Linked DNA regions of Homo sapiens. The protein of the gene in region 1 purifies or fractionates together with the protein of each later gene. This does not show direct contact. Each region holds a gene or a part of one and is shown in the gene's direction. Other genes may lie near its edges.

The links. The genes of interacting proteins can lie anywhere in the genome.
Region 2: the proteins of TMEM98 (region 1) and SOST purify together in Homo sapiens (co-immunoprecipitation; one large-scale study listed by IntAct). This does not show direct contact.
Region 3: the proteins of TMEM98 (region 1) and BMPR1A purify together in Homo sapiens (affinity purification with mass spectrometry; one large-scale study listed by BioGRID and IntAct). This does not show direct contact.
Region 4: the proteins of TMEM98 (region 1) and CD226 purify together in Homo sapiens (co-immunoprecipitation; one large-scale study listed by IntAct). This does not show direct contact.

The regions. Positions count from the first base shown.
Region 1 is NC_000017.11:32,934,548-32,938,518, forward strand, and holds part of TMEM98 (transmembrane protein 98), read left to right. Parts: intron 1-1,784; coding exon 1,785-1,900; intron 1,901-3,971. UniProt on the Homo sapiens protein: Functions as a negative regulator of MYRF in oligodendrocyte differentiation and myelination. Interacts with the C-terminal of MYRF inhibiting MYRF self-cleavage and N-fragment nuclear translocation.
Region 2 is NC_000017.11:43,753,068-43,756,092, reverse strand, and holds the end of SOST (sclerostin precursor), read left to right. Parts: intron 1-329; coding exon 330-751; 3' UTR 752-2,355; downstream 2,356-3,025. UniProt on the Homo sapiens protein: Negative regulator of bone growth that acts through inhibition of Wnt signaling and bone formation.
Region 3 is NC_000010.11:86,759,318-86,763,288, forward strand, and holds part of BMPR1A (bone morphogenetic protein receptor type-1A isoform 3 precursor), read left to right. Parts: intron 1-3,971. UniProt on the Homo sapiens protein: On ligand binding, forms a receptor complex consisting of two type II and two type I transmembrane serine/threonine kinases.
Region 4 is NC_000018.10:69,857,204-69,861,174, reverse strand, and holds part of CD226 (CD226 antigen isoform a precursor), read left to right. Parts: 3' UTR 1-3,971.

The DNA.
Region 1 (3,971 bases):
ATTCAATGACCTGTGGGAAAGACAGCCTAGGTACACAGCCACCATTTCACTCCTCTTGGAGAAAGCTGTGTATTCCTGAGACCGTGTAGCTGCCAAGAGAAATGGGGTTTCCCTGCTTCCCCCTGCACACTCATTTTCACTAACAGAGAGTTCAGGCCTGTATGGTGAGTTTCTTTCTGTATTTGGATTTCTACTGTGACTAGAAAGTCATCACTAGCCTTCTTTGGCTGTGACCGTAGTCAGCCAAATGGGACAATCAGTGTTAAAAAACCAAAGCAGGCATACTTCAATCTGAAGGCAGAGGATTTTTTCTTTGAAAGCCTGGAATCTTTGAAAAATTGCATCCAATTTGCATTTTGGGTAATTTTATGGTTTTAGCATTTGTTTTCAATTCTTGCCTGTTAATATCCTACCTAATAGAATAATAACTATACTGAAATATTTGGCCAGTTGCAAATATCAGGGTTTTTTTTTTTACATCAGTAACCTGGGTAATCACACATTTATCTCTTTGACTAGTAATTATTCAAGATTTCAAAAGAGACAACTTTGTCTTTTCTTTAGTGTCATTCAGTAGAAGACACTATTAATAAAACATTCTTTACCCCACCTCTTCTTTGGCTGTCTCTCTCAGGGGATGGATAAATGCCTAGTAGGAAGTTATTATCTCAGAGTCCAGGCTTAGTTAATTCTGAGAGGCTCTTTGGATATACAAATATGGCTATAGATATAAATATGGTTATTGATAGAGCTAGGTAGGCATAATGGCTAGAAGATAATACTATACTACATTTCCCTTCTCCTGGCCAAGATGTGTCCTGGGCCTGGGTTTTGTCTCCTGTCCTCATCTATTAGGAGGATAAATGGCACCTGTGGTGTGAGATGAATCAGCTGGAGGGAGTCATATTGAATTGGAATCTGTGTCTACCCGGCGAACCTCTGATCAAAGGAGAGGGCTTCTAAGTCTCCTCTTGGGATCTTAAGACTCTTTTGCTAGGTCACCTGCCCTTGAGTCTCTGTGGTGGGAGCTGGGAGAGGGGTCTGGGCTAACTCCCAGGTGGACCTTTGGGCTTCTTTCTGCCCTCTACTGTCCAGCTCCAAGTATAGGTCAGGTAGGGGTGCTTCCTTGCCATGGATAGAGGCGCACCCATGTTGGTTGGTTCTAGCATGGGGTGGCCTGGAAAGGGGAAGCAAGCTCTGGGGTGGCCAGCTCTGTGGGTGGGACCACGAAGAAGGCTGTAGTCAGTCTTGCCTTTTCCCTGCTTTTCCTAAGGTCCTTTCATCATCAGCTTGATAAACATGCTAATATATTACCTGAGACAATTGTTGAAATAAGTGCTGTTATTGGAGCATGTGCTTAAAGGGAACAATTGCCCTTTGTTCAGCCCCATTCCTGAGGGTGCCTTGTTGGAGATATTTATTCTTGTGGAAGACTAAACCATGAGATGAAGGAATAGAAAAAGAAAGTAGGTTTTTCCCCTAAGTGAGAAGGTGAAATTGGAGCACATGATTTTTCTTAAGACAGATTATTTCAGCTTAGGCTTCCCAGAGCCCACACCCTGCCCTTGATCTGCGGCTCCCACCCCAGGTCCTCTCCCAGCCATGCCCTTGGCTTTTGCCACTTCCCACCCGTTTCCTCTCATCTCTGTACTTTTCACATCTGGCCATTAGGTTGGGGGCCAGCTGCGATGGAACTCACGGCAGGGCTGATTTGTCTCGTGGGGGTGGCGAGGCCCTGAGTGGAGCCAGGTCAGCCCTCATCTCTCTCCTCCCTGCCGCATTAGATTTGTCACACTCTGACAGAGAAGCTTGTTGCCATGACAATGGGCTCTGGGGCCAAGATGAAGACTTCAGCCAGTGTCAGCGACATCATTGTGGTGGCCAAGCGGATCAGCCCCAGGTGAGCAATTGGCGGCTTCGAGGTCCCCACACTCCCTGAGGGAAGAGAGGGGCTGGAAGCTGGGGTAGCCGCAGAGCTGGGCTCTTCTATAAAATGGTGCACAGGCAACTTCAGCTATTTGTTTCCCACACATTTACAGAGTGACCAGGAGGGTTTAGATACCGAGACTTCTCAGCTAAGGTGGGCTTCCACCATCCCCACCTGCAGCATGACCCATCTGAGAGGGCTTTGGGGAAGCGCCAGCAGGTGCCTAGTCCTGACCCTGTCCTAGACCCTGCCCTGCAGAGCCCGTGGCCGCCCCTCTTACCCAGCCACATACCAGCTCCCCTTGACACGCCTTCCTCCCAGGCCAACATGTCACACAGATGCCCACACCCCTGTCTCTGCCTGAATCTGTGTTGGAGACTAGCTTGGGGGACCCACTCTGGCTGTGCCCACTGCTCCATCCCTGGCCCAGGCCAGCAGCCTCCAGCACTGGGTGGGAGCTGAAGCCATATGGCATTCAACCTCCCAGATTCCAGGCTAACTGCGAAATCCCGTGTGGGAGGCAACCAGCAGGATTGCAGTCAACAGCTACACCCCCTCATTTGGGCTTGATATCGTGAGGAAAAATAAAGCCCTTTTCTTAGAGCCAAGGGCTGTACTAAGTTTGTGCTGCCACCTGGTGGCTGGTATGCCGACGTGCCTGAGCAGAGGGTCGGGGCCAGGATGTTTTCCACGTCAGCCACCTGGCCCCTCCGCCCACCCGGGAGGGCACCTCTGTATGCCTGCTGAAACAATGGCACTGCTGTGAGTTCCAGGGGCCCACACGTTCCTTGTTGCCATGGCCCCAGGTAAATCACGAGGAACCAGCCCTTTCTCTGCCTCAAGATTAACCAAATAAAAACGACCAGTTTCCTGAGTTGCCACGTGAGTTCCTCTGAGGGAATACACGACCTGGTCAGCTTGAACTCAGTCCAGGCAGTTCAGTGAGTTGAGAGAGTGGGAGGGAGATAATCCAGGGAGGGACTCAGCTGAGAACAGTTCCCTGCCTTCTCTGGAATTGCCTCCAGTGGGCTGTAGCCACATGGTCAGCCCCTGGCTTTATAAGAACCCACATCCCAGGCTCTGGGTGGGCACTGGGCATTCCTTCCCCATTATTTTATTTATTTATTTATTTTTGAGATGGAATCTTGCTCTGTCACCCAGGCTGGAGTGCGGTGGTGCGATCTTGGCTCACTACAACCCCCACCTACCGGGTTCAAGCGATTCTCCTGCCTCAGCCCCCTGAGTAGCTGTGATTACAGGTGCCTGCTACCATGTCTGGCTAATTTTTGTATTTTTAGTAGAGATGGGGTTTCACCATGTTGGCCAGGCTGATCTCAAACTCCTGACCTCAGGTGATCCTCCTGCCTCAGCCTCCCACAGTGCTGGGATTATAGGTGTGAGCCACCACACCCGGCCTCCTTCCCCATTAGTTTTAAAGATTCTGCACTATGGTATTCACTAGACCCTTTGTCATGCTTTTTGTGCCTTCTAAGAGCCACTTAGAGGCCAGGCAGATTCCTGTGATACAGGTTACAAGGCAGCACTTTCAGGAGGTTGAGGTTTCTGTGTGAGCCTGGGTGAGTAGGATCAGCACGGGTCCTAAGATGAGGGTGTGGCATTGTCCAGAGAGTGGACCTGTTCTGGTGCTCACAGGCCCATCCTAAAGAGTACCTTGGACTACTTCTAGAATGCTCCGTGCCATAATTCAGCCAGGGTCCTGCTTTGTCCTTTTGCCCTCACACTTCTTTCTCCTTCTGGCCATGTTTTGTCCCCATTGTTTTTCCTGCTCCATTTATCCCACACAGTGTGTTGATGGCCTGTGAGTCTCGAGGAGGTGGCTTCAGCTCCAGGGCACTAGAGAAAGGAGCTGGCTGAGATAGGCGCGGAGGGTGACTGTGTCTCTGCATGTCCTCACCGGCTCCACAGCCGTGAATAAGAGTGTTTGAGGCCATCTTTTTTTCAAGTGCTTTTAGAAATCAAACAATACATCTTTATTTTTTCTTCCTATCGAGTGTTCATGAGCAAAGATTTGGAGCAAAACCTT
Region 2 (3,025 bases), about 11 Mb from region 1:
ATGGATTAACTCGCAATGCTTGGGGCGGCCCATTTTGCAGACAGGAAGAAGAGAGAGGTTAAGGAACTTGCCCAAGATGACACCTGCAGTGAGCGATGGAGCCCTGGTGTTTGAACCCCAGCAGTCATTTGGCTCCGAGGGGACAGGGTGCGCAGGAGAGCTTTCCACCAGCTCTAGAGCATCTGGGACCTTCCTGCAATAGATGTTCAGGGGCAAAAGCCTCTGGAGACAGGCTTGGCAAAAGCAGGGCTGGGGTGGAGAGAGACGGGCCGGTCCAGGGCAGGGGTGGCCAGGCGGGCGGCCACCCTCACGCGCGCCTCTCTCCACAGACGTGTCCGAGTACAGCTGCCGCGAGCTGCACTTCACCCGCTACGTGACCGATGGGCCGTGCCGCAGCGCCAAGCCGGTCACCGAGCTGGTGTGCTCCGGCCAGTGCGGCCCGGCGCGCCTGCTGCCCAACGCCATCGGCCGCGGCAAGTGGTGGCGACCTAGTGGGCCCGACTTCCGCTGCATCCCCGACCGCTACCGCGCGCAGCGCGTGCAGCTGCTGTGTCCCGGTGGTGAGGCGCCGCGCGCGCGCAAGGTGCGCCTGGTGGCCTCGTGCAAGTGCAAGCGCCTCACCCGCTTCCACAACCAGTCGGAGCTCAAGGACTTCGGGACCGAGGCCGCTCGGCCGCAGAAGGGCCGGAAGCCGCGGCCCCGCGCCCGGAGCGCCAAAGCCAACCAGGCCGAGCTGGAGAACGCCTACTAGAGCCCGCCCGCGCCCCTCCCCACCGGCGGGCGCCCCGGCCCTGAACCCGCGCCCCACATTTCTGTCCTCTGCGCGTGGTTTGATTGTTTATATTTCATTGTAAATGCCTGCAACCCAGGGCAGGGGGCTGAGACCTTCCAGGCCCTGAGGAATCCCGGGCGCCGGCAAGGCCCCCCTCAGCCCGCCAGCTGAGGGGTCCCACGGGGCAGGGGAGGGAATTGAGAGTCACAGACACTGAGCCACGCAGCCCCGCCTCTGGGGCCGCCTACCTTTGCTGGTCCCACTTCAGAGGAGGCAGAAATGGAAGCATTTTCACCGCCCTGGGGTTTTAAGGGAGCGGTGTGGGAGTGGGAAAGTCCAGGGACTGGTTAAGAAAGTTGGATAAGATTCCCCCTTGCACCTCGCTGCCCATCAGAAAGCCTGAGGCGTGCCCAGAGCACAAGACTGGGGGCAACTGTAGATGTGGTTTCTAGTCCTGGCTCTGCCACTAACTTGCTGTGTAACCTTGAACTACACAATTCTCCTTCGGGACCTCAATTTCCACTTTGTAAAATGAGGGTGGAGGTGGGAATAGGATCTCGAGGAGACTATTGGCATATGATTCCAAGGACTCCAGTGCCTTTTGAATGGGCAGAGGTGAGAGAGAGAGAGAGAAAGAGAGAGAATGAATGCAGTTGCATTGATTCAGTGCCAAGGTCACTTCCAGAATTCAGAGTTGTGATGCTCTCTTCTGACAGCCAAAGATGAAAAACAAACAGAAAAAAAAAAGTAAAGAGTCTATTTATGGCTGACATATTTACGGCTGACAAACTCCTGGAAGAAGCTATGCTGCTTCCCAGCCTGGCTTCCCCGGATGTTTGGCTACCTCCACCCCTCCATCTCAAAGAAATAACATCATCCATTGGGGTAGAAAAGGAGAGGGTCCGAGGGTGGTGGGAGGGATAGAAATCACATCCGCCCCAACTTCCCAAAGAGCAGCATCCCTCCCCCGACCCATAGCCATGTTTTAAAGTCACCTTCCGAAGAGAAGTGAAAGGTTCAAGGACACTGGCCTTGCAGGCCCGAGGGAGCAGCCATCACAAACTCACAGACCAGCACATCCCTTTTGAGACACCGCCTTCTGCCCACCACTCACGGACACATTTCTGCCTAGAAAACAGCTTCTTACTGCTCTTACATGTGATGGCATATCTTACACTAAAAGAATATTATTGGGGGAAAAACTACAAGTGCTGTACATATGCTGAGAAACTGCAGAGCATAATACTGCCACCCAAAAATCTTTTTGAAAATCATTTCCAGACAACCTCTTACTTTCTGTGTAGTTTTTAATTGTTAAAAAAAAAAAGTTTTAAACAGAAGCACATGACATATGAAAGCCTGCAGGACTGGTCGTTTTTTTGGCAATTCTTCCACGTGGGACTTGTCCACAAGAATGAAAGTAGTGGTTTTTAAAGAGTTAAGTTACATATTTATTTTCTCACTTAAGTTATTTATGCAAAAGTTTTTCTTGTAGAGAATGACAATGTTAATATTGCTTTATGAATTAACAGTCTGTTCTTCCAGAGTCCAGAGACATTGTTAATAAAGACAATGAATCATGACCGAAAGGATGTGGTCTCATTTTGTCAACCACACATGACGTCATTTCTGTCAAAGTTGACACCCTTCTCTTGGTCACTAGAGCTCCAACCTTGGACACACCTTTGACTGCTCTCTGGTGGCCCTTGTGGCAATTATGTCTTCCTTTGAAAAGTCATGTTTATCCCTTCCTTTCCAAACCCAGACCGCATTTCTTCACCCAGGGCATGGTAATAACCTCAGCCTTGTATCCTTTTAGCAGCCTCCCCTCCATGCTGGCTTCCAAAATGCTGTTCTCATTGTATCACTCCCCTGCTCAAAAGCCTTCCATAGCTCCCCCTTGCCCAGGATCAAGTGCAGTTTCCCTATCTGACATGGGAGGCCTTCTCTGCTTGACTCCCACCTCCCACTCCACCAAGCTTCCTACTGACTCCAAATGGTCATGCAGATCCCTGCTTCCTTAGTTTGCCATCCACACTTAGCACCCCCAATAACTAATCCTCTTTCTTTAGGATTCACATTACTTGTCATCTCTTCCCCTAACCTTCCAGAGATGTTCCAATCTCCCATGATCCCTCTCTCCTCTGAGGTTCCAGCCCCTTTTGTCTACACCACTACTTTGGTTCCTAATTCTGTTTTCCATTTGACAGTCATTCATGGAGGACCAGCCTGGCCAAGTCCTGCTTAGTACTG
Region 3 (3,971 bases), on another chromosome or scaffold:
GTCTCTAGTCCCTTAGAATGATTGTTCAGACCTTTCTGTTGGAATAATTCTCAATTCTTTGTTTATGTGTCTTCTGAATCACGTTTTTTTGTTTGTTTGTTTTGTTTTTTCTTTTTTATTCAGTTGCTTTCTACATATCTGTACCTGATTGTTCTGAGCTGCTTTTCCTTAGCAAACTTGCCTCTTTGGTGTTCTTTATTTTTGTTGATGTCATACCAAACCCAAACCTTTTCCCATTTCATCATATCTTGTCTGTAGCCAACATCTGTTGATTCTGCTTTATGATATTGTAACTCTTCTGCTCTCTATTCTTGCTAACTGTGGGGCAATTCTGAATTCATATTGGTGTGAAGGTAGTAGTCAAATCATAAAACGAGTTGGGCAGCTTTCCTTCTTTTTCTCTTTTTCAGGATCATTTTAGACTGGGATTATCTGTTCCTTGAAAGTTTGGAAGACCTCCCCTATGTGACCATTTAGGCCTAGATCTTTTTTCTGGAGAGGACTTTGAGTAACACTTCAATTTCTTTAATAGCTGTTGGTTTGTGTCGATTTTCTGATTCTCATATGAATTTTAATGTTTCACATTTTTTTCAGGAATTTATTTTCAAATCTAGTGTTATTTGGCTTTCACGTAGTTCTCCCCCCACCACCCCGCGACTCCACCCCCACCCCCTAACTCTAAATCAAGTTCTCATCCCACCTGGACTAATGTTATGATTTTCTTGCCTTCACTTTTCTCCTTTATCTAATCTTATGTATTTCTGCCTAAATTAATCTGTAAGCCCAGTTCTTACCACTTCGCCACTCAGAAGTTTCCTAGGTCTTCCATTAAATGAAATATTTTCTGTGGTATTTGCCTCAGATTTACCTGTTTTTTTTTTTTTTTTTTTTTAATACCTTATTGTTTTTTCTTTCTTTCTTTCTTTCTTTCTTTTTTTTTTTTTTTTTTTTTTTGATACAGAGTCTCGCACTGTCGCCTGGGCTGGAGTGCAATGGCGTGAGCTCAGCTCATTGCAACCTCTGCCTCCTGGGTTCAAGGGATTCTCCTGCCTCAGCCTCCCAGGTAGCTGGGACCACGCCTGGCTAATTTTTGTATTTTTAGTAGAGGTGGGGTTTTGCCATGTTGGCCAGGCTGGTCTTAAACTCCTGACCTCAGTTGATCCGCTCGCCTCAGCCTCCCTGTGCTGGGGTTACACAGGTGAGGCACTGTGGCTGGCCTTTATAGCAGTTTTTATACAAATATTAGTTTCACTACTAGTTTGCAGGGTGGGTCTGTAACGGACTTTTCTTGCATATTAAAAGGAATAAATGGGGAAAGGCTCCTGTCTAGCCTAACAGTAGCTGTTGAACTGTCCTGATCTGACTATTGGATCTTAGGAGCAGCGAACCATGGAGAGAAAGGAAAATGGGTTTCCTATCACACTAAATTTTGAAGTAGGAACCATTTCTTTTCCTTTTCTACTTTCCCACCTTTTACTAGTTTTTAGGCTTTAGGATGTCTTTTTAACATCACAAGGTCCATATTGACCAAGTTGGACCAACTTTTTAACACAAGATTAAATGTTGACTTGCATTGAGTTATGTCCATTGTAAGATACACAGTAGTGTTACAGACCACTTAAAATATGCTTCTAGTTGTAAGAAGCCATTGATTGTAAGGTGCACCCCAATTCCGGAGATGCTAAAATATGAAAAATGGATGCATCTTAGAATTGATGAATAGTGTTTCTCTCCCTAATCAAAGCTCTTGGATGTGCCTGGAAATCCCCAGTAGTGTTTTTTGAAAAGAACACTAGTTAGGGGCATAGGGAGATCAGATGATCAGTAGACTCCATCTCAGGGTGGCCCCTGTGGTCCCTAAGCCAGTTCGTATGGGCAGTTTAATATATAACTAATGAGTAGACATTGAATAGATGAGTAAATTATCTTTGAGTATCTTTTATTTACTCTGATGTTGTAGACTTTGTTACTCTTTTATAGTTTTATATTTCTGATGAGCCTTCCTTTCTTATGGCACAGATTTGTTATACTGTTAAAGTCTGGAACAGTGGAGCTTGGCTCTTGATCCAGCTGTATATAATTGGCTGTTGACTTATGAAGGAGGACAGGAGTATGCTAGAGATAGGGATAAAATATTATAATCACATTTGCAGTTAGGGAGATTAGTTACATGTTGGAAAATCATTTTGAAGAAAGGAAGACTGAAGATGTTCAAACTTGTAGGAAGGTCTTTCTGGCCTAGCCCGGATTAAACCCATTTATGCCTAGTGTTCCACTATTGGAACGCTAAGCACGTGGGAGTTATTTATATCCTGCTCAAGGTCATCACCAAGGTCTGATTGCAAAAATTCAAAAAATTGCAGCCTCAGGCATAAATGGGTTAAGATGGTGGCAGATAATTAGGGCCTGGAATGGATAGGAGGCGATAACTAGCGTGGATGAGAGAAGGAATGGGATTGGCAAGAACAACTCCTGGATTTCTAGCTTGGAAAGCAGGGTAGATGTGGGTGACAGATATGAAAAATGAGGTGGGAGAGCTGGTTTGTAGAAGAAAATAGTATTGGATCACATGGAGTTTGAGATATCTGAAACAGCCAAGTAGGGATTTCCACTTGGCAGTTGTCTATATGGGTCTGGGGTTTGACAGAGGTTTGTGCTGGAGGTAGGCATTTGGGAGTCATTGCTGTATAGATTTTATATTCCAACAGTGGGAATTGGGTGGCTCTCTCAAGTGACTCTTGCTTACAAGTGACAGCCCTAACTCAAGTTAGCTTAAAGGAGGGAAAAGCTTCTCCCCACTAACCCCCATGATATTGAAAGGTCTAGAAATAGACATGGCTGGACCTAAGTGCTCAAATGATATAATTAATTGAGGTTGTCTTTTCTGTTCTTCACTTTTGTGGTCTCATTTCAGGCAGGTGCATATATCTGGCAGAGGAAGACATAGGTTATAGGTTATAGAATTACAGGTTATAGGTTATAGACCTCGTATCGAGAACTCCTTGTATGGTCTAGCAAAGAGCCTAAAACAGCATTGAGAATTTTTTTTCTTTCTTTTTGAGACGGAGTCTTGCTATGTTTCCCAGGCTGGAGTGCAGTGGTGCGATCTGGGCTCACTGCAACCTCCGCCTCCTGGGTTCAAGTGATTATCCTGGCTCAGCTTCCCGAGTAGCTGGGTTTAACAGGCGCCCGCCAATACGCCTGGCTCCTTTTTGTATTTTTAGTAGAGACAGGGTTTTGCCTCGTGGGCCAGGCTGGTCTCAACTCCTGACCTCAGGTGATCCTTCCGCCTTGGCCTCCCAAAGTTCTGGGATTACAGGTGTGAGCCACTGCGCCTGGCCAGTCTTGAGAAATTTCAACTTAAGGCCTGGGTAGAGAAGATAGACATTAAATAATTATCTAGTTGTAGTTATGTTAAGATCTACAAAAAGGAAGTCCAGGGAATGTTACAAGACTGATAAGGGAAGCTGGGCTGTTCAGGATGCGGGTACTTTGGAAGGCTTTCCTGAGAAAGGTAGCCCGCAGAGTGAGACCTTAGGCAAGAAAGGACAAGGAGACTGTTTTTGGAAGTATTCAGTAGTATTTATTTATTTATTTGAGACGGAGTCTCACTCTGTCGCCCAGGCTGGAGTGCAGTGGCGTGATCTTGGCTCACTGCAACCTCTACCTCCCGGGTTAAGCGATTCTCATGCCTCAGCCTCCCAAGTAGTTGGGGTCACAAGCGTGAGCCACCACGCCTGGCTAATTTTTGTATTTTTAGTAGAGACGGGGTTTCGCTGTGTTGGTCAGGCTGATCTCGAACTCCTGACCTCGTGATCCGCCCACCTCGGCCTCCCAAAGTGCTGGGATTACAGGCATGAGCCACTGCGCCCGGCCAGAAGTATTCGGTAAAGTGAGCAGTTTTTGCAGCTTTTTAAAAATTTTAAAGGCAATACATCTATTGTGGGTAATTTGGGAAGTATAAAAAGCCA
Region 4 (3,971 bases), on another chromosome or scaffold:
TTACTAAAATACTATATATATAAACTTAAAATACATGGGTTATCAATTTAAAAGACAAAGTAAGTAAAAATACTTTTAGTAGGCATTCGTGGATTGTGAACATCCAAGTTATATTGGTTTGTATAGAATGGCATTAAGTAAAAATTACAGCTGTATAACAGTAGTTTTCTAAATTGAGAGAGTCCACATTGTAATTAGAGATCACTGTGACCAAAATGCTTCTCCTTGATTTATAATGATGTACTGTATTTTGTACTGCTTATATGAAATTTCAGCAAGATTGACGATATTATAAAGATGCTTATAAAGTGTAAGTGGAGACGCTAAATTGTGAGTACAAAGTTTCTTTTTCACAACAGTGATAAGAAAATATCTTTAAAAAATATAAGACAATATAAACATGTCATCATTAGTTTAGCTACTATTAAAATGTAACATCTAGAAAGTACTGATCTCCACCTTCAGACTTCTGTATAAGTATATTTTTTCACTGATCTGTTCATTAGAGTTCTTCCAGCCAAGACTCTGGGCTCTTAAAACATGTATCTGAAAACTAAAAACAAGTTAATTTTTTTAAAAGCTTCTCTATTTCTAGTGATTCAATAGGTAGAAAAATAGCTTCTAGAATTAACTGCAATGCTTTCTAAGGAAATTTTATAAATCCTCAAGGTCGGTTTACACATATTTTTCCAGATTCAGAGCACTAACTATCTTGTAAGATGTAAGAAAAGGTCCATTTGGAAGTATGAGTAATAAATGTCTGGGATAATTCTGGTTTATTTCGTATTATCCTTGTTAGAATAAGTTATATGGTCAACCTGTTCAGAACACTTTTTCTAGTGTTAGTGTGTACTTTTGGATTTTTGGTTCTTGTAGGGTATAGAAATATTTTCCTTTGTCTTGTATTCTGTTGTTTTGAATGAATAAAACACAATGTTTCACGATCACTACTTTCATTTGCCATGGAGAAATAGCAGGGAAAAATTTCTACAGAATAAAATTAACTGATGAATTACATGCAGAAAAAATTCAAATCAATGATACATTGTAATTTTTATCTCAATGCAATGTTCTTTGTATTTTATTTTATTATTATTTTTTTGAGACGGAGTTTCACTTTTGTTGCCCGGGCTGGAGTGCAATGGCACAATCTCGGCTCACCACAACCTCTGCCTCCCGGATTCAAGTGATTCTCCTGCCTCAGCCTCCTGAATAGCTGGGATTACAGGCATATGCCAACATGCCTGGCTAATTTTGTATTTTTAGTGGAGACGGGGTTTCTCCACGTTGGTCAGACTTGTCTTGAACTCTGGACCTCAGGTGATCCACCTGCCTCAGCCTCCTAAATTGCTGGGATTACAGGCATGAGCGACCACTCCTGGCCTTGTTCTTTGTATTTTATAAGTGCATGTAGTGCAAAGGGTCAAAGGGCTTTACAGGTTTTTTGTTTGTTTGTTTTTGTTTTTCCCGAAACATAGTAGTCCCTTGCCCTTCCTCATTTTTGTTACCTTGAGACAACAAATTTTACTACTTCTAACTCATTATTTTATTTATGTTCACTTTTCTGAATAGCATGCTTATGACACTAATACTTTTTTTTTCAATTTTAGACATTCATTATTCATTTAGATGTCTTTCTCTCCCCAAACTCACCACATAAAATACTCTTCTCATGTCTCTTTCAGAAATATTTGTATTAAAATATGATTATATCAATATTTGGCATTTATTTCTTATGACCTTGCCAGTACTCTTAGTTAAACTACATGGTAAAAATGATTTTGCTTTCCCTCCTACATAACTTTTTTTCCACCTAGAGCTAATAATTGTCATTCTGGGGACTGACTTTTTCTGTATTTACCATAAATTGACCTGAAACTCCCCTGTGATGCAGCAGGAATTCTACCAACGTCAACTTCCTTAGAAAGACTCCATTAGAAGCTTGACTTGGGGCTAGAAGGAGAGGCACACAACTGCCATCCTGGTGTCTCCCTTCATCCAGAAAAAGGGGGAGGAATACATGAAACCTAGAATCCACTCTAAAACATTTTCCAGAACAAAAGGACATGTGTTTCCGTGTTGTAAATGTTTAACGAGTGCCCATAACAAGGAATAATAAGTCTATTATGTTTGCTTTTGTGTCTGTAAAAGTTGGGGGTATTGGTTGTAAGCACGAAAACAGATACTGACTGTTGAAGAAAAAAAAAAATACGAGGTCAGGAGTTTGAGACCAACTTGGCCAATATGGTGAAACCCTGTCTTAGTAAAAATAGAAAAATTAGCCAGGCCTGGTGGCACGCACCTGTAGTCCCAGCTACTTGGGAGGCTGAGGCAGAAGAATCGCTTGAACCCGGGAGGCAGAGGTTGCAGTGAGCCAAGATCGCACCACTGCACTCCACCCTGGGCAACAGAGCGAGACTCCGTCTCAAAAAAAAAAAAAAAAAAAAAAAAAAAAAGTTAAGTATTTGAACATAGGGGTGGCTCATAGAATTCCCAGGACACCCGATGGAGTAGGCTTGCAAAACACAACATGTGGCAACTCCAGTGGGAAACGAGGCAGGAAACACTCGTTTCCTGCAGAAAGCAACAATTTGGGCTTCGATACCCTCCCTAGAACACAGGGCAGTGAATCTGAGCAGCATCAGTACCCCACGTTCGGATGAGTCCTGAGCCCCTATTTTTATTCACTGACTTATTCCAAAATCAGTGTCTCTTAAATATATCTGGAAGGCAGCAGCTTGTATCTCCCCCTTCAGCTTCCATAGTGGCAGTCAGGGTACAACTTACTTTCCAAACAGAACACACTGCGACATTCCCTCCAGGCTCGTTGAAGAACTTCAACTGACAAATGTCCCTCCTCGACCAGATGATAGTTTTCTTAAAGGCAGGGTTTAATATACCCTTTTATAAATGTTTCAAGGCCCTGTGTAATACCTGAGTTTATTCCAGATGTAACTAAATATATCCAAGATTGTTTTAAAATAAATTGCTGAAAAAACAAATAAATACAGTTAGTATCTATATCAATATTCTCAGTTGGCAGTTTTGCAATAATGGCCGATAGTTCATTTTTAGTAACACTATTGACATTGCATTTGGATATTAGGGTTTACTAATCATCCGCATGTATACATTGCATATTTTTCTAGACTTTAACTTTATTCAAATCTATTGATTTTTAAACCTGCAACTTATGTCTAGACACAGGTATACCTTTACAAGAACTACCATTTTTTTTGGTAACATACTACCTCCAAAATTTCAAGTAAGAAGTTGATTTTTGTCCATTTTTAAATGGAAAACTTGTAATCAAAATGCCACAAAATTATACTGTGTATCATTTGACCTATAGAAACCAATATTATTACAGGAAGAAAGCAGAGCCAATCTTCTACCTGTGGTCAAATAAGTGGAGGCCCTTTCTAGACTAAGTTCTCATGAGTTTAAAATACCAAGCATAAGTTCTCCAAATTCCTGAAAAGGAAGCCTTGTGTTGTATTGCCCAGCCATATTTGTAAGACATAAAAATAAAACTTGAGAAGAAGCTATGATAACTTACTTTCTTCATTCTTCAAAATTTACATAATCTCAACTGATTTTATGTTTTTATGAAAATGCATTCTTAAGATATATCCTTATTCAATCATGTATTCATTACATCCTTTATGCCAGGTATCCAAAAGTACTTACAGTGACTAAGACCATTATTCTTTGATCAGCTGCCTGAGTAAGACTTTGAGCTCTCCAATATACTCTCAGTGATACTAAGTTTTCTGAGTAACAGCTTTGGATGTGGCTTCAGTTGAGCTGATTTATCCCACACTTTATTTTTATCGTATAATGGTCCTCAGAAGCAAATTTTGATTTTAGCTCACATAAAAAATGTACAAAGAAATGTAATGGCTCAGTAGCTTCTAGAGATAGAGATTACTCTTCTAACCTTTCTGTAATTTTGTATGTCTATTTTATAA